Homo sapiens: one gene and its partners. The protein of the gene in region 3 purifies or fractionates together with the protein of the main gene of each other region. This does not show direct contact. Each region holds a gene or a part of one and is shown on either strand. Other genes may lie near its edges.

The links. Proteins that work in one complex are often made in the same cells at the same time.
Region 1: the proteins of PROKR1 (region 3) and UCK2 purify together in Homo sapiens (affinity purification with mass spectrometry; one large-scale study listed by BioGRID and IntAct). This does not show direct contact.
Region 2: the proteins of PROKR1 (region 3) and HEATR1 purify together in Homo sapiens (affinity purification with mass spectrometry; one large-scale study listed by BioGRID and IntAct). This does not show direct contact.
Region 4: the proteins of PROKR1 (region 3) and ACVR1B purify together in Homo sapiens (affinity purification with mass spectrometry; one large-scale study listed by BioGRID and IntAct). This does not show direct contact.

What each region holds. Positions count from the first base shown.
Region 1 is NC_000001.11:165,906,578-165,909,865, forward strand, and holds part of UCK2 (uridine-cytidine kinase 2), read left to right. Parts: intron 1-1,106; coding exon 1,107-1,246; 3' UTR 1,247-3,288. UniProt on the Homo sapiens protein: Phosphorylates uridine and cytidine to uridine monophosphate and cytidine monophosphate. Does not phosphorylate deoxyribonucleosides or purine ribonucleosides. Can use ATP or GTP as a phosphate donor.
Region 2 is NC_000001.11:236,580,517-236,585,052, reverse strand, and holds part of HEATR1 (HEAT repeat-containing protein 1), read left to right. Parts: coding exon 1-28; intron 29-1,856; coding exon 1,857-2,040; intron 2,041-2,180; coding exon 2,181-2,317; intron 2,318-3,638; coding exon 3,639-3,831; intron 3,832-4,536. UniProt on the Homo sapiens protein: Ribosome biogenesis factor; required for recruitment of Myc to nucleoli. Involved in nucleolar processing of pre-18S ribosomal RNA. Required for optimal pre-ribosomal RNA transcription by RNA polymerase I.
Region 3 is NC_000002.12:68,649,001-68,654,572, reverse strand, and holds part of PROKR1 (prokineticin receptor 1), read right to left. Parts: intron 1-5,572. UniProt on the Homo sapiens protein: Receptor for prokineticin 1. Exclusively coupled to the G(q) subclass of heteromeric G proteins. Activation leads to mobilization of calcium, stimulation of phosphoinositide turnover and activation of p44/p42 mitogen-activated protein kinase.
Region 4 is NC_000012.12:51,953,663-51,958,198, forward strand, and holds part of ACVR1B (activin receptor type-1B isoform a precursor), read left to right. Parts: intron 1-4,536. UniProt on the Homo sapiens protein: Transmembrane serine/threonine kinase activin type-1 receptor forming an activin receptor complex with activin receptor type-2 (ACVR2A or ACVR2B).

The DNA.
Region 1 (3,288 bases), on a different chromosome or scaffold from region 3:
AAGCTGGTCTAAAACTCCTACCTCAAGCGACCCTTCCATCTCAGCCTCCCAAAGTGTTAGGATTACAGGCGTGAGCCATAGCACCTGGCCCCATTGTTTTATTTATTTTTTTGGCCTGTCTAGGAAGTATGAATGTCTCTGGACTAGGCGTAGTGTGGCAGAGTTGATCTGTAAAATAGGACCTGGTTTCTTCATTCTCTTTAGAATTTATTTAATTTTCCCTCCATTTAAAAAGATTATTTCTTGAGCTGTTTGGGAGTAAGTTATAGCAATAAATATTTAACCCTGTATTTTTTAAGAACAAAGGCATTCTTATTCATCAGCAGAATGCAGTCATTAAATTCAAGACATTTACCATTGATATGACCTCTTTTAACCTGGAGATGTTCCCTATCTTTTGTTTTTTAAGACATTTTTGAGGCGTACAGGCCCATTGTTTGGTAGAATGGTCCTCAATTTGGGTTTGTCTTTTATTTTCTTATGATTGGTTTCATGAGCTTATACAGTCTGAAGGAATTATCCCAGGAGAGATGTGGCGTGGTCCTCTTTGTGTATCACATCAGAAAGCATTTGATGTGTATTCCATTTTTGGTGATGTTAAATTGACCTCTTGGTTGAGGTATATAATTTATTTCTAATGCTAATAAAAGATAGCTCTCTGCATTATATTTTTTGGAGGGAAAGAGGGCCTTCCATAGGGATGCTCTGTCTTAGGATGGAAAACTGGAAGGTTCCCTGGTGGAAAGGTCTCATAGCTAATTGACGTGTCAGAACCATGGCTGGTTACCACGTCTGCAGACTTTGGCCCGAGTGCTTCATCCAGTGGTGACTGATCATCTCCTGATAAGAAGCCCATTCATTAAGGGCTTACTCTGTGGTAGGCATTGTCTATCTTACTCCTTAGAGCCCTCCTGTGAAGGAGGAGGATCATATTAGCTCAGGCAGAGCCACTGGGAAGTTGGATGACTTGCCTGCAAGTGGCAGAGCCACTTCCCTGGAAGTCTTTCTACTGTGGTTCCTGCATGCCCTTCCCCCAGACAGACTCCCACACTCACCCCTGCACCCATGCCTGCACCCGTAACGCTCTGCTGGTCTCTGCCCCACAGTGGCCATCAACCTCATCGTGCAGCACATCCAGGACATCCTGAATGGAGGGCCCTCCAAACGGCAGACCAATGGCTGTCTCAACGGCTACACCCCTTCACGCAAGAGGCAGGCATCGGAGTCCAGCAGCAGGCCGCATTGACCCGTCTCCATCGGACCCCAGCCCCTATCTCCAAGAGACAGAGGAGGGGTCAGGAGGCACTGCTCATCTGTACATACTGTTTCCTATGACATTACTGTATTTAAGAAAACACCATGGAGATGAAATGCCTTTGATTTTTTTTTTCTTTTTGTACTTTGGAACGACAAAATGAAACAGAACTTGACCCTGAGCTTAAATAACAAAACTGTGCCAACTACTACTGGTGATGCCTAATTATGAATCCAACGTGTAACCAGTTATAAATACATATATATATAAAAAAGGATCTATTTTTGTGTAAATGTACAAATACTGTAAAGCTGTTTGCCATAAGTATTTTGCAGGAGGGTCTGTACTTGAGTGTTTTAGGACTGGAGCTGGAATTTCACCAAGGGGAAATTGCCTGTTGTGTCCCAGGGTGGGGAGGCTCGGGCATCTGTGAGAGACAGGGAGGGTGGCTAAGGTCCAGTTGCTTTTGAGTGCCCCGTGGAACTTGATGGGAATGGGGTTGGAAAACCTTGATTGCCTCCTCTGTCACATGCCACTCTTGGAGCTGGAGCTTAGTGATATGTCAATGAGAGATACTCTTGTCTTTTTTTTTTTTCTTTTCTTTTTTTTTTTTGAGTTGAAATTAGGTAAAATCTCAACTCAAAAATCAAACTCAGGGAAGAGGCCCACTGAGGAGAACAAGTCTTCTGCATTTTCTTCCTGCCCTGCTCCCACCTTCTCGCCTCTGGCTGCTTGGATAGCTTGGTGACTCCTTCCTCACCCTCCTGCTTCTCTGTCTCTCCAAGAAGCCAGAGCTGCCTCTTTCCTTCCCTGGAAGAGATTTTATGGGATCGCTTCCTGATAGAAGATGGGAAGGAGAGGGCAGAACTTTGCCTGCTGTCATATCTGAAGAATCACTGGTTCTTTCTGCATCCCAGGGGCGTAACTGATCTGACTCCTTGGGCTTTTTCCTGTATTGTGGAATATAGAGTGGACCATTGCAGGCTGGGTGTGGGTGAGGGCTTCGGTAACTGATGCCGGCAGCAGCGCCTCATGGAGTGGCAGGGGAGCTCTGTCTGTGGAGGGGTAGTAGTTTCCGCTTCCTGGAGGTTTGCAGTGAGGTGAGGAGAGTAACTTTGGTCAGGGATTCTCACTAGCAGCGTCATGGCCAGGATGCTTTACTTATTTGCAATACCACCTAGTGGATATGGCAACTGCAGAGCATAAAAGGGGCTCGGAAAAGCAGTTTTTACAAAGTATTTAAAAGGAGAGTATTTAAATCATAGGTACCTAAGTTGGAGCCTGAGGTTGAAATATTTGGGGTGGAGATTTCTAGCTTTCCTGAGAGCTGCTGCTTGGTGGTAGTGTTTTCTCTGGAAGTACAGATTCCTGACATTCTGGGTGGAGGGGAGCCCAAGTGAGCCTGAAGGAGTTCTGATTATAGAGTCCCGAGCCTCAGTTTCTGACTGCAGAAGAGCCAGAGATGTTCATTTCATTGTTGACCACCCTAGTGCTTGGTGGACTGTGCCCTTAGCTATCCCACTGTGGCTGCCATTGCCAGAAACATTTTGGAGAACCTTTTCTTCCCATTGCTCTCAGAGCCTGTTCGAGCCATTCAGGTAAATTGGTCTCCATTATTACCTGGTCACACCAGATTTTCCCCCAGACTCAGCACCATCCAGTCTGATTCCCCGTTTCTGGGCTCAGTTTGACTCTAAATCTGTTTTGCTATTTTAAAAAGTCAAACCTGGTCCCCAGCAGAGCTTGCCACCCGGAGACTTTCAGGAGACCGTGCAGGCTCTGAAGGGAGCTCCCAGTCACAGCAGCCGCCTACTTGGAGCAAGGGAAGGCTCCCAAGATGCCTCCTTTGAAAGCCGGTGCTCACCAAGATCAGTTCAGGATCAATCATTATCCTTGTAGTCATGCCTTGATCAGTTCTGAGATGAAGCAGGGAATGCAGGCCTGGGTTAGTATCCTGAGGACACAGGGCCCCTGGCCTTGATGGCACTGGGCTGTGCTCAGGTGAAGCCCACCCGTGTCTGGGAGAGCCTTGG
Region 2 (4,536 bases), on a different chromosome or scaffold from region 3:
GAAGCTTGAAAGTGTCATTACTGCAGTGGTAAGGAAAGCAGAATCTCCAGAAAGTGGGATGTTGAATAAAACAACAGCCTGGCCTATTAGTCACAGCAAAACTGAAAATCAGAGGCGAGATGTTGAGTCTGTGGATAGTAGCTGGATGAAATGTGAAGCAGTCTTGGGTAGCAGTGAGATAGTCAACTAGGCACTCCCTTGCTTTTGCGGAAAGTTTAGTTGAATTATAAAATTTTAGGGTTGCAATATTTTGTATCTGATGCCTGACTCTCCTCTCTTTTATTGTCTTTATTGGATAATTACCCAAGCTACACCTAACTACCTCTAGCGATGAAGAATTCACTTGGTGTGTTAGTGCTTGAACAAAATACTATTTCATTCAATTGTTTACTAAAAATAGATCTTTTAGGCTTTAAATAATTTTAATATTACATAGATGTGTATCCCTCCAGCCTACTACTGTCTTTCATAGTATTACTAAAGGACATGTTTCAGCTGTTTACATTTGACATGTTTTGAGGTAGCAAGACTTTTTTTTTAATATCTGCTATATGTAAGGATTTTGTTTTTATTTGTCCTCCAAATTTTAGAGGGCTTCTCATTATAGGATTTACTAAATGAATTATATCTTTTTCACATTTACGTATACCCGCAGGATTTTATAAGTTCTGATCATGGCCATTGTTAGCTAAAATGTGTAAACTTTAAAAAGAGTAAAATCTTCATATTTTGAAAAATAGTCCAGATAGGCCCTTCTTAACTTTTAGTTTCTTGGTGTCTTTTGTGAAGTATGATGACCTGAACTATACTGGTTCTCAGTGTTAAAAGTATGGACAAATAGAGTGTTTTATTATACATATGTAGATAACAGGTTATTTTATATTGCTTTACTTTTAATACCTTTCTCGAGGTCATGAGCATGTTTTCGCCTGTAGCAGCACGTTGAGTTAATCAAATCCCTCACTGGAGACGTTACATTGTAAATCTGGCTTTGGATTATTTTCCTTCTAAGTTATTACTCTGTACTGCTTGTACAGAGTCATATTTGTCATTTTCTTACACCTGTTCTGCATTCTTTTGGCACTTACAGTATAATTTCTAAACACCTAACATTTTGCTGCTTGTTTAAAATCATCTGCAGGTTTGGAGATTTTTGCCATGTACCTTATTCAGATTAGTGGTAAAACAGTGAAATCAAAGAATTCCCTTTAACTATGTCTTGGCAATCCAACTGTTTATCTTCCTGTTTTGAAATATACCTATTTTGGCCAGGCACGGTAGCTCACGCCTATAATCCCAGCATTTTGGGAGGCCGAGGCGGGTGGATCATCTGAGGACAGGAGTTCGAGACCAACCTGGCCAAAATGGTGAAACCTAATCTCTACTAAAGATACAAAAATTAGCCAGGCATGATGGCGGGCACCTGTAATCCTTCCTACTCGGGAGGCTGAAGCAGTAGAATTGCTTGAACCTGGGAAGCGGAGGTTGCAGTGAGCTGAGATTGTGCCGCTGCACTCCAGCCTGGGTGACAGAGCAAGACTCCGTCTCAAAAAAAAAAAAAAAAAAAAGAAATATGCCTATTTATTCCTACCCTTTATTGGATAAACAGTTCATATGAATAAAGTTTGTTTTTAGAGATAATGTTTCAAGGTAAGACATAGATAAAATTTAACTTTGTCTTTCCTTGTGAATAGTGATAAACCTCTTTAAAAATCCGACCAAAGCAGTTCTGTTAATCCTTTCCCCACCAAAATGCACACATAAACAAAACTTTTGCATATTATGCAGAGGAATTCATATAACCCATGTTCAGAACCCTTAGTTTGTACTAGTTTTTGTTTCCTTTAACATTTCAGGAAATCCCCTCAGAATGGCACATTGAACTGATGTTAGACAGAGGGATCCCAGTGGAGCTGTGGGCACATTATGTAGAAGAGCTCAACAGCACTCAGAGGGTGGCCGTGGAGGACTCGGTTTTTCTTGTATTTTCCTTGAAAAAATTTATTTATGCACTGAAAGCTCCTAAATCTTTTCCTAAAGGTAAGATACAAGCTGTGAATCTTTTAAATGTGATACTCTGCAAAACTGAATGATTGACTCCACAATGACTGTCTTGAATAAAAAGCTCCCAGCATGTTCATGTAGGATCTAGCATCATTTCTCTTTCCATGTCCTTGTAGGTGATATATGGTGGAATCCTGAACAACTGAAAGAAGACAGCAGGGACTATCTGCACTTGCTCATTGGGCTGTTTGAGATGATGCTCAATGGTGCCGATGCTGTTCATTTCAGAGTTCTGATGAAACTTTTCATAAAGGTACAAGCCTCCTCCTTTTCAGGCGTACTCTACCCTTAAAGAAGATATGGCTGGCCTGCAATCCCAGCACTTTGGGAGGCCGAGGCAGGCGGATCACTTGAGGTCAGGAGTTCAATACCAGCCTGGCCAACATAGTGAAACTCCATTTCTACTAAAAATACAAAAATTAGCCAGGCATGGTGATGGGGCCTGTAATCCCAGCCACTTGGGAGGCAGAGGCAGGAGAATTCGCTTGAACCCGGGAGGCAGAGGTTGCAGTGAGCCGAGATCACACCACCGTACTCCAGCCTGGGTGACAAGAGTGAGACTCTGTCTCAAAAAAAAAAGATGGGCTGGGCGCAGTAGCTCACGCCTATAATCCGAGCACTTTGGGAGGCCAAGGTGGGTGGATCACGAGGTCAGGAGATCGAGACCATCCTGGCTAACATGGTGAAACGCCGTCTCTACGAAAAATACAAAAAAAATTAGCCGGGTGTGGTGGCGGGCTCCTGAAGTCCCAGCTACTCGGGAGGCTGAGGCAGGAGAATGGCATGAACCTGGGAGGTGGAGCTTGCAGTGAGCGGAGATCGCTCCACTGCACTCCAGCCTGGGCGACAGAGCGAGACTCCATCTCAAAAAAAATAATAAATAAATAAAAAGATACTGTGGGTTATTTGGGTTATGACAGTTTATAATGTAAACAAAAGTAGACTTGTAAACAGTGAAGAGTATATAATAGCACGGGCCCTGTAAAAGAGTACAATCACAATACTAATCGGTAGGTTGAATAGAAACTAACATTGCTACACTCCTACTAATATGTTAGGCCCATTACTATATTTAAAAATAACAACAGCCCAGTCTTTTTGATTGGTTAATACCATTTAAAAATGTGAATACTGGTGTTCAGAGAGGTTATTTAGCACACGTGAAGTTACTCAGGAAATTTCATCCCCAGCACCAGTGACCTCCATGTTGCCAGGCCCAGTGGTCAGTTCCTGTTCTTGCCTGACTTGTTCTCTCTACAGCATTTGACATGGAGTTGGCATTGCTCAGCACATTGTTGAAGTATTTTCTTAATTAGGCGTCCCAGATACTGCTCTTGTCTTGGTTCTGTGTTTTCAAGTGCAAGGTTATAGTGAGGCTTCTGAATATCACTCTTCATTGACATCTTCCCAGTTCATTAAAACATGGAATATGGAATAATTTGAAATGATTAGACAAAGCAAAACTTTGCCTTAAATTATTTGTTTCTTTATAATTGTACACTAGTGAGAAGAGGATTTGGAACCAGCTTATTTGAGTAAGAATTAAAAGTTTGCTTTTTTTTTTTTTTAATTAGGTGCATCTAGAAGATGTTTTTCAGTTATTCAAGTTCTGTTCTGTTTTATGGACCTATGGTTCTAGCCTTTCAAATCCACTAAACTGCAGTGTGAAAACAGTGCTGCAGACTCAAGCTCTTTATGTGGGCTGTGCAATGCTTTCTTCTCAGAAGACACAGTGTAAACACCAACTGGCATCCATATCTTCTCCAGGTATTAAAAGTAGCATTGTTATGTTTTGTCATGACCAACTGTTCATGCTTTCTCTATATGGTTTATGTAGTTTGGAAAATTATAACTTAAAAAAAAATAGCAGAGGGCAGGCGCGGTATCTCACGCCTGTAATCCCAGCACTTTGGGAGGCCGAAGCAGGCAGATCATGAGGTCAGGAGATCAAGACCATCCTGGGCAACATGGTGAAACCCCGTCTCTACTAAAAATACAAAAATTAGCTGGGCGTGGTGGCATGTGCCTGTAATCCCAGCTACTTGGGAGGCTGAGGCTGGAGAATTGCTTGAACCAGGGAGTTGGAGGTTGCAGTGAGCCGAGATTGTGCCACTGCACTCCAGCCTGGTGACACAGCGAGACTCCATCTCAAAAAAAAAAAAAATCGATAAAGGCCAGGCGAGGTGGCTTACACCTATAGTCTCAGCACTTTGGGAGGCTAAGGCAGGAGGATCACTTGAGGCCAAGAGTTCAAGACCAGCTTGGACAACGTGATGAGATCCTGCCTCTACAAAAAATACAAAAATTAGCTGGGCGTGATGGTGCGTGCCTGTAGTCCCAGCTACTCAGTTGCCTGAGGTAGGCAGATGGCTTGTGCCTGGGAGGTCAAGGCTGCAGTGAGCTGTGATTGCACCACTGCACTCCAAACTGGGCAACAGAGCAAGACCCTGTCTCAAAAAAAAAAAAAAAGGG
Region 3 (5,572 bases):
AACCTGCTATTTCATTTTGCAGCATTCTAAGGAGCAACAAAATGGTATGTGTGGAGGAAACTCCCAATGGTACGTGGGCTTCTGCAAAAGGTCAACTTGAAGCAAACCCCAATGTCATCTCTAATTAGCTATGCAACCTCAGCCAAGTTTTGTTGATGCTCTGACCCTTAGTTTCCTTATCTGCACAAGTATTGTTGGCTGTTAAATATTAAATGTGATAATGTATGCACTATGCCTGGCACAGTTTTAAGCCTAATAGGTACTCAAAATGATAACAATTAGTATTAAATATAATAATTCCTCCCATCGGTTTCTAGCCTGGCACTGTTCCCAGCTCCTTCCTGTTCTTGGGCTGTTCATTCTAATTACCTCTCAGTTTAGAGCTAAAAGGGCAAGATAATTCAAAGAGTTGGGAGAATCTGCCCTTTCCAATGGAAACAGTGGGCAAAGGTTTTTCTTCATTCTACATTCTAAAAATTGTTGCTTTGCATGCAAAGGAGGAGGAAAAGCATGTGGCCATGTGTGTCATTTTCAGGTGGAAAAATGGAAGGCAGTGAGAGATGAGTGACTTTCTCAAGGTCACAGACCACAGGACCCTTCCTTGATAGAAAACATTTAACCCTACCTCACAGGATTGATGTGAAAATCAATTGAGAATATACGTGAATGTATTTTTTTTTCTAACCGCAAAGCACCAGACAGTAAAAAGATACTGCTTTTGTCCTTTCAAAAAAAAACCCACATTGCTGTTACCACAGTGGTCCAGGAACACAAAGAGAGAGCACTTTCTAGGGGGGAAATGAGTCATTGTGCGGCATGAGAGCTGATAGCCTCTTTCCGAGAGAGAACGCACACAGCTTATGCAGAGAGCTCCGGTTTCCTGGAAGACGTCCCGTGGCTGGCAGAGGGTGGAAGTTGGGGAAGGAGAGAGATGGGGAGTGAAGTGGGAGGGGATTGACTGGTCAACAGTGGAAACAAACACAGTCTCACGTGTCCAGAACTTATTCCAGGTAGAGCCCAGAGCAAACGTGAAGGGGGCCTGAAGGAAAGCCAAACCGGTTGTTTCCTTTGAAACCAATCCCTATGAAGTTATCTTCCTTGGAATTTTGATTTGAAGAAAGGTTCATTCTTACTTATTTTTTTTTTTCCTGACTGTATTTCTGCTCTTTCTGTCCCTCCCCCACAGCCTGGGCAGTCAAGCCTATTGAGCATCCTTTAGAGAGTTCACAGGAGTGAGGCTCCAGCTCTTCTAGCCCCAGATGTTAAATAAAGTAGGATGGGTTGCGCCCACTCTGGACGCCCGGCCGACTGCCATCCCTGGCACTCTAGCCAATCTCCCGAGTGCCAGAGGGAAAAAAGGGAAATGTCTGCAGGGTGTTGGCAATGCCATTGTCAATGCACGAGTGTGGGCCCTTCATTAAGATCGCGGTGCTCCTGATGTAACCAGAGCCTCAAACTCGCCCTGACTCACAATGAAAATGGAGAGTTAAGACATTCTGCTCTCACTGGCTCCATTGCTGTCTGTCTACCCCACCACATTCCACTGATTACTCTGAGAAAGAAATTTCCTATTTCATATTTATTCACTATAAGAATTTTCACCACATAATTCTATTCCTTTTCCCGATAGTAGCTACCTAAGCCTTTATGATGCTTCAAACACAGAGTGTGTTTTCAATAAATGTGGGAAGGAACAACCACCTAAGACTCAGAAGACCACAAATCTAATCCCAGCTTTGCCAGAAAGTTGCTCTATGAATCTGAGTCATTTTTCTTATCCCTGTAGGTTCACTTCCCTCATCTGTAAAATGGGAATATCACCTAGATGCTATGAGGCGCCAGTGAGACACTGCACATAGCAACAGTAAGCTATTAATATACAAGGAATTACTAGCATTTTAAAATGTATTTTTTCCCAGAGCTATTCTGTATACACAGCAATTTTCTTTTACCTGTTATTGGCAAACACTCAATTTGCAAGTCCTCTCCTCCTTTCTATTTTATAGGATAAACTCTACACATCAAAACTAATCTTCAGGGTAATCTGTGACTACCTATCAGATAGTCATTTCATTCTGGGTCTCTCTGACATCACCCCAACTCCATCCGCAGAATTAGTGCCATGAGCTGTGCAAGAGGCCTTCCTGATATATTTACAAATAGGTAAATTGCAGAAAATGATTTCAAGAATTTCCATCAGCTTTGTCAATGCTAGGACCAGAACTCCAGAACTCTAGCATTAGTAATGTTGTGTTTGCTTATGTTTGTAAAGAAGTTTACAATTTACAGAGCATTTTCAAATCCACTTTTTCACTAGATAATTCCAACCCTACTAAATAGGTAAGACAGTGACAATGTCCACTCTATAGATGAGAAAACTGAGGCTTGGGGAAGTTAAATAACCTGCCAAAAAGCCATACAACTAGATATCAACAGAACAATGACTCAGACCCACATCTTGCTGCAAAGCCAGTGGCCTCTCTGAATGCTATTTACCCCCTCTTCTTTCATCCAAGAGCAAAATGATGCCCCCTCCTCTTGCCTTCCTGGCATCCCAGCAGCCCTTCTCCTCTTTCCTCTCCATCACAGTTGGTTTCTAACTATTGGTGTTCTAAGAAGGGGTCTGACATCTGGCGGCTGCTTTTCTCTGCTTATATGTATGCCCTTGGCTTGCCCTGTGTGTCTGCCACTACAGTGGCTTAGGTCCAGATTCATGTAGAGCTAACAGTTCCCAGAGAACAAGGAATAAAGGCTGCTAGACAAAGAGATGGTCCAGGCAATAACTGTGATAATAATGGGCTGGAAAAGAAGTATTTGGGCTCTGTCTCCGTTCCCAGGACCAAGCCCCAGATCAAATCATGGTAACAGTGGTCTCAGCAGCTACTAGGCTAGTCATGGGATGGGCAGAGATAACACAACCTGATCCTCAGGCCAGTGGCCCTGACTAATGAGCTCACCAGGAGGTTTCTGTGCTTCCTAAGGTTGGGTGAGATTACTCAGGCCTTAGCTTCATCAAGACAGAAGAAGAGAGCTTCTTCACAGGTACTTTTCTGGCCAGTTTCCTCAGGACTCTGGGTAAAAGAGAAGTTCTCTGGAGCCCCCACACGCTGTGGGATCTTAGTGTCTCCACATCAAAAGGAAACCCATACCTGTGGCTGGGGCAGAGGTCTCTCATGATCCTTTTTTGTTTTGTTTTGTCTTTTTAAAAGACAGGATCTTGCTCTGTCACCGAGGCTGGCTGGAGTGCAGTGGCATGATAACAGCTCACTGCAGCTTCTATCTCCTGGGCCCAAGGGTTCCTCCCACCCCAGCCTCCTGAGTAGCTGGGACTACAGGCACATGCCACCATGCCCGGTAAATTTTTTTTTTCTTTTGTAGAGACAGGATCTACCTATGTTGCCCAGGCTGATCTTGAACTCCTGAGCTCAAGGGATCTTCCCGCCTAGGGCTCCCAAAGTGCAAGGATTACAGGCGTGAGCCACCACACCTGGCCTCATTTTCCTCCTGCCCTCAGGTCTGACTCCCTCTGCCTGGCTGTTGAGACCTTCTGGAATAGATTCTATTCTTTCTGATCTCTACTGTCCTTGTGTTTCTTACCCATACCTGACATCCCTCTCTAAAGTACCTCAAATTCACTTCAGGCAATCCCACCTCTAGGCTTTTCCACACACTGTTCTACCCACTCTCTTGGGAAAACTTTCCTCTCCTTTGTTGATCTTCATTTGTTGAAGGACAGTTAGAAATCCACCTCCTCCATGAAGCCTCCTCTGACTACTCCGGCACAAAATGATCTCACCCTTCTCTAAATGTTATTTAAAATTTATCCTTTACTTATTCTTTAACTGTTTTGTAAGTGTTAGTTCTCCCTGGTCCCACCCTACCCCCAACTCTAGATGGTCAGCCCCCCAAGAGCTGTGATTATGTCTTACTTCTTTTATAACCTTTTACTCTCTGTGAATTCTGAGTACCTAACAGGATTTTGGTGCAACTTCACCCTCATTGAGTGCCTAGCGCTGGGTGAATAGACATGTAAAAAGCTGGCTGGACACAGTGGCTCACACCTGTAATCCCAACACTTTGGGAGGTCGGGGCACAATAATTACTTGAGACTAGTTCAAGACTAGCCTGGGCAGCATAGCAAGATCTCATCTCTAAAAAAATTTATTTTTAATATATAAAAAGCCATGGGGACAGTTCTCAGAAAGATTGCAACTATTTTTGGGAAAACAGGACATAAATATGTTTAACCATGAGACTGGGAAGCAGTCTGGGGCTAGATAATAAAAGTTTGGAAGAACAGGTGAAAGAGTTTGAGCCATACTTTGTAGACAATGGAGTTATTAGAGGTCTTTTTTTTTTATACTTTAAGTTTTAGGGTACATGTGCACATTGTGCAGGTTAGTTACATATGTATACATGTGCCATGCTGGTGCACTGCACCCACTAACTCGTCATCTAGCATTAGGTATATCTCCCAATGCTATCCCTCCCCCCTCCCCCCACCCCACAACAGTCCCCAGAGTGTGATATTCCCCTTCCTGTGTCCATGTGATCTCATTGTTCAATTCCCACCTATGAGTGAGAATATGCGGTGTTTGGTTTTTTGTTTTTAAGCAGGAGAGTGGAGACACGTACAAGACAGAAGATTAATTTGGCTGCAGCCTTGCTTACTTCCCTCGGGCCACATGGAGGCTTCTCTCTGTTCCTCTGTTTGTAGAACCCATCTGGTTTGTTCCTGCCTCTGGGCCTTTTCACTTACAATCCCCCTTGTCTGGGATGCTTGCTCCCTGTCTTCCCAAGGCAGGCTCTTTCCCCCTGTGTCATTCAGAAGCCAGTTCAAAGGCCTCTCCTCGGAGACCCTTCTCTTGACTACTCACCTAGAATAGGTCCCACCCTCAGCCACCCTCGACATTTTACCTGTGTACTTCTTTTGTTCAGAGTATTTCTTGCTTCTGAAATTACCTTCCTTTTGTGTTTGCCTGACTGGATCTCTCTCCATCCTTTGGTTATAAGCTCCAGGAAAGCAAGGAGTTTTTTTTGTCTTATTCACTGTCGTATCTCCAGTGCTTGCAATAGCATCTGTCACATCACAGTTACTCTATAAAAATGGATTGTTTAAATGAATGAATGAATGAAAGTTTAGGATGGATTGTCAGGGGAGTAGCGTTGACAGATGGGCAGATCCAAGAAACACTGAAGGCAGGAAGACCAAGAGGAGACTAGGATACCAGCCCTGAATGAACAAACGGGTATTGCCAAGACCTGGAGGTTGAATGAATGCTGGTAAAGAAGGGAGAGCAGCCAGGACAAAGGAGACTTTCTTCTAGGTTAGATGCCTCGGAGAACAATGGAACCAATAATATAGACAAATACAAGCAGGTAGATGATAAATAGTTCTGTTCTGGCATTTTGTAAAAATCTTGTATTTTTTTTAAATCACATCATAAAAACAATAATTTCAATGAAAGCAAAAAGGTTAGTGTGTCAGAAATGTTCATTAGTTTACCTGCTTTTTTGTTGTAGACATTCCTATAAGGGTTAATTTAAGAATTATCATATCCACTGTTTATTT
Region 4 (4,536 bases), on a different chromosome or scaffold from region 3:
AATCCTCATATAGGAATTTTTATCCTGCCCCTAATATATCCAGGATTTTTAACAGTCATTTCCCTGCTGATTTGATGTAGTGTTTGTGGGGTTTTTCTGGTTGTGAGCCTAGTTAAGAATGTTTGATAATCCAAGTGGTTCTGAATGGGGCAGAGTTCATTTTTTTGTAACCTTCCTAAAATGGATGTTTGTGGGGGTTAAGGTGGGTGAGTAAAATAGGGAGTTCGTTTCTTTTTTTGGTAAATTGGAAATTAGGTTGTGTGTCCAGCAAACATTCTCCAGGGCCTTTAAACTTCTTGGCCAGACACTACAGTTTTTTCCAGGACACGTCTAGTTGCCAATAGTGTATGCTATGGAGACCACTGCTGCAAAGGGCTTAAAGTAAAACGTCAGTTCTGGGAAAATAGAGGCTGTGGGATAACAAGAAGTTGATTTTTTTCCCCTCCCCTGCATTTCCTATATAGTGCTCCCCTACGTGGGCTGGAGGAGTGACAGAGCCAGACAGCTCTGATGCCTGATACTTGGACTTGATGTGAGGGGCAGTAAGGGATAGGTGTTTCTATTAATTAATGAATTAACTAGGACTTAGTAAAAGGCCAGTGATAAGGAGAATGAGTTTCAGTTAGAAATAGCATCCGTTTGATAGGTGTACATGTTTTAAGGCCTGGCTTTGGAATTTTCACATTTAAAAATGTAAAATTGAGTTAGTAGCAGGAGAACATGACATTCATTTCTCAAGACAAAAGCAACAAGAGAGATATTTGACATTCTCATAGGAACATTTTGAAATTTTGTGAGCGGACTAAAAATCTAATTTCAAGCCAAGCCTTGTAATTTTGTTGAGTGGACATGGATTTTAAGTACAGTGGAAGTGCAGTCTTGTAGAGACCTCTGATTAGTTTTGTTTAAACAGCTCCTGGAACAGATGTGATAAAACATATTAAAATGGCTACTCTGGTTAAAGGTTAAAGCCAGATGGAGGGAGGAGGCTGGTTTTCAGCCCTAGAACTTAGCTGCCTTACAAGTTGTCCTTGAACAAGTAACTTAACCTTTCTGTGACTGCCTCAGTTTTCCCTCTGTAAAAATAAGGAAATATTTTGTGTCACTCTTATTGGGACATTTGTGAGACTGACTTACTGATAGCCAGTTGGCGGGGAGGTATTTTTAGACACAGTTTCTGACTTCAGTGAATAAGCAATGCTGGGTTACTTTTTTATCTTAAGGAGCAGAAAAACATACTCTGTGATTGATAGACGTACAGCATGTCACAGTGTGGTTTTCTTTTTGTGCTTTTTTGTAGACCCCTTTCAGATTTCCTCAAGTTAATTTCTGTCTCTGGCAGGCTCTTACATCGTCGACTAGGCAGCATACCTGTGCTAATCAAAGACAGTCTGGAGGGAGTGACCTGCTTTAGGCTTTATTGGTTTGGCAACGTTTTAATTCTTACGCAACTCTGGGTATGTTTATGGCACTATGTAAATGTTACATAAGAACATGGAGGCTGAGAAGTGGCCAGAATGGTGACTGTGAACACAGGAAGGTTAGACTGAGGACTTTATCCAAAAGGACCTTGGGAATCTGCAATCAGTACAGGAAGAACCTGCACTTATTTTCCTCTAAGAACCTTTTTAGATGATTATGTCTTTCAGGTGGACTGCTGTGTTATAAATAGGTTTATTCTCCACCGGTGAGCTAATTGTAACCTTGCTACCAAAATATGAATCAGTAAACGATGAGACGTGCTGCTTCTTCCAGCATGTCCTGTTGAAGCTGCTTGTTGCATTTTGGAACATGAGTTGAATTGGGTTGCAGTCTGTTCTCATAATAGCTGAGGAGCACAGGGTGTTGAGGTGGAATGGAATTATCAGTTCGTGGTGCTTTAGGTCATCTTAATTTTTGAAGGTTAAATTAGAATACTGAAGTGGCTCTTTATAATTTTGAAATCTCTATTGTTTACTGTTCAATTTTTGCTCAGAGTAGCAGTGAACATTAATTCTGGGATCTCGCCTGTTTGTCTTCAGTTCTTGTGTTAGCTGTTGTTGTAGGAGTTGGTGTAAGAGGGTCTTAATCTCATTTTCCTCTCTGTATTCATAAAAAGGGAATCCTAGAGTCCTTTCTCACCAGTGCTTCTGATGCTGGACATAACTGCAGGCAGCCACAGCCCATCAGTTCCACTTGGACTGGGAATGCGGGAACCTTTTAAGTCCAACTTACATTTCTCTCACTCTGCAGGCACTGCCTCATGGCCAGGTTCAGATACCTGCTCTGAGTTTCTGTTCTCAGTTTTTCACTCTCATGCAGGTTTAACTTGAGCTTTGGCTTCAGAGGCACCATTTCTGTCCATGTCTGCTCTCTCTCCTCTGTTATGGAGAAATGGTGTGCTAAGCAAAAATATGATTTCAGAGAGTATCTTTCTTTCCTTTACTCTGTAGAGTTGCCATACTTTGGTTTAGCTGTGAAGTTTCCATCCCAGGCAATCTTTATCTGCTCTCTAGGGTTCAGAGACAGTGCCACTTTAGGCAACTCTGGGCTTTTTGGTTTTCTTTAGTGTCCACCCAGTCTTAAGCCTGCATTTGTCTCCCTAAATATTTTGAATTTAGCATAATGAAAGTAACTGCCTTTCCCTTTAAACCATAACATCACACCTAATATTTACACAGTTAACATATAGGAGATTTCTTTATTCATTGGATTGGGTATGTGCCTGGAACAGTTTTTGGCATGGGGAAATAACAGAGAACAAGATGAACAAAAGTCCCTAAATCTCTATTATGGAACTTATAATTGCAATGGCTTAGACTGAAAATAAATAAGTAAACACAATTATCAGTCCATGAGTGCTGTGAAGAAAATAAAACAGGATGCTGTGCCATAGTGTGCCTGGAGCTGCCACTTCACCTCTCTATCAGCTTCATTGTTTTATCTGTAAAATGGGGCTAATACAGTCTTGTTATTTGTGGTAGTTCCATAAAGTTGAATTGTAGAACTGAATTACCAAATCTTCAACCATTGCTCCTAGGGGAAATACAGGGCTAGGTTCCTGCGAGCCTCTGGTCACTTTTTCAACCTGTCAATACATAACCTTATTTTATGTGTTTCTTTTTTTTTCTTTTTTTGAGACAGGGTCTTGCTCTGTTGCCCAGGTTAGAGTCCAGTGACATGATCTCACTCACTGCAGTTTCTGCCTCCCAGGCTCAAGCAATCCTCCCACCTCAGCCTCCTGAGTAGCTGAGACCTCAGGTGTACACCACCACACCTGGCTAATTTTTGTATTTATTTACTTTTTGGTAGAGACAGGGTTTCGACATGTTGCCCAGGCTGGTCTTGAACTCCTGGGCTCAAGCAATCCACTCACCTGGGCTTCACCTGCTGAGATTACGGGTATGAGCCACTGAACCTGGCCTGTTTCATGTGTTTCTGTTTATTTTTATTTTTAATTTTTATTTTTTTGAGACAGTGTCCTGCTCTGTCACCCAGGCTGTATAGTACGAGAGTGTATCATAGGCCAGGCACAGTGGCTCACGCCTGTAATGCCAGCACTTTGGGAGGCCGAGGCAGGTGGATCATGAGGTCAGGAGTTCGAGACCAGCCTGACAAACATGCTGAAACCCCGTCTCTATTAAAAATACAAAAATTAGCCAGGTGTGGTGGTGTGCCTGTAATCCCAGCTACTCAGGAGGCTGAGGCAGGAGAATCACTTGAACCTGGGAGGCAGAGGTTGCAGTGAGCGGAGACTGCGCCACTGCACTCCAGCCTAGGCAACGGAGTGAGACTCCGTCAAAAAAAAAAAAAAAAAAAGCCAAAAACATCATAGCTCACTGCAGCCTGAAACTCCTGGGCTCAAGGAATCCTCCTTTGTCAGCCTCCCAAGTGGCTAGGATCACACGCACATGCCACCATACCCGGCTAATGTTTAAATTTTTTGTAGAGATGGGGTCTCACTTGTTGCCCAGGCTGGTCTCAAATTCCTGGGCTCAAATTATCCTCCTGCCTTGGCCTCCCAAAGGGCTGGGATTACAGGCCTGAGCTACCATGCCTGGCTTTGTTTCTGTTTAAAGACACCTTATTTAATATATATTGTTGGTTCATTAACATTGAACTTTACTGACAGCAGCACTATTAACTCATGCCTGAACTAAGCTTCTCTAACATGTATTTTCTCTGTGAGGCATATCACTATCTTCTTGCACTTAGGAACTCTAGACAGCACTTCAGCACTACTTGTGGGGGACCATTTTATACAGCAAAATCATCAATGAAAAGCATGACACTAAATATACTGCAGAAAGGATAACTTGTTTACAGTATGCCAGCTGAAACAAGAAGGCAGGGTGTTGCCTTGTTTGACCTCAGTTGGGAATGCATGTGGTGGGTGTTTCAGATGTTTCACTATTCTGTGCATGGCTGTCAGTGAGCAGGAAGGTACCATGAATGTTGATATTGGGGTTACAAATAAATTTGCATTAACCATATTTTGTTAGAACTGTATACAAAAGTGGTAGAAATAAAATTGTAGAATTTCACTAAACCAGAATT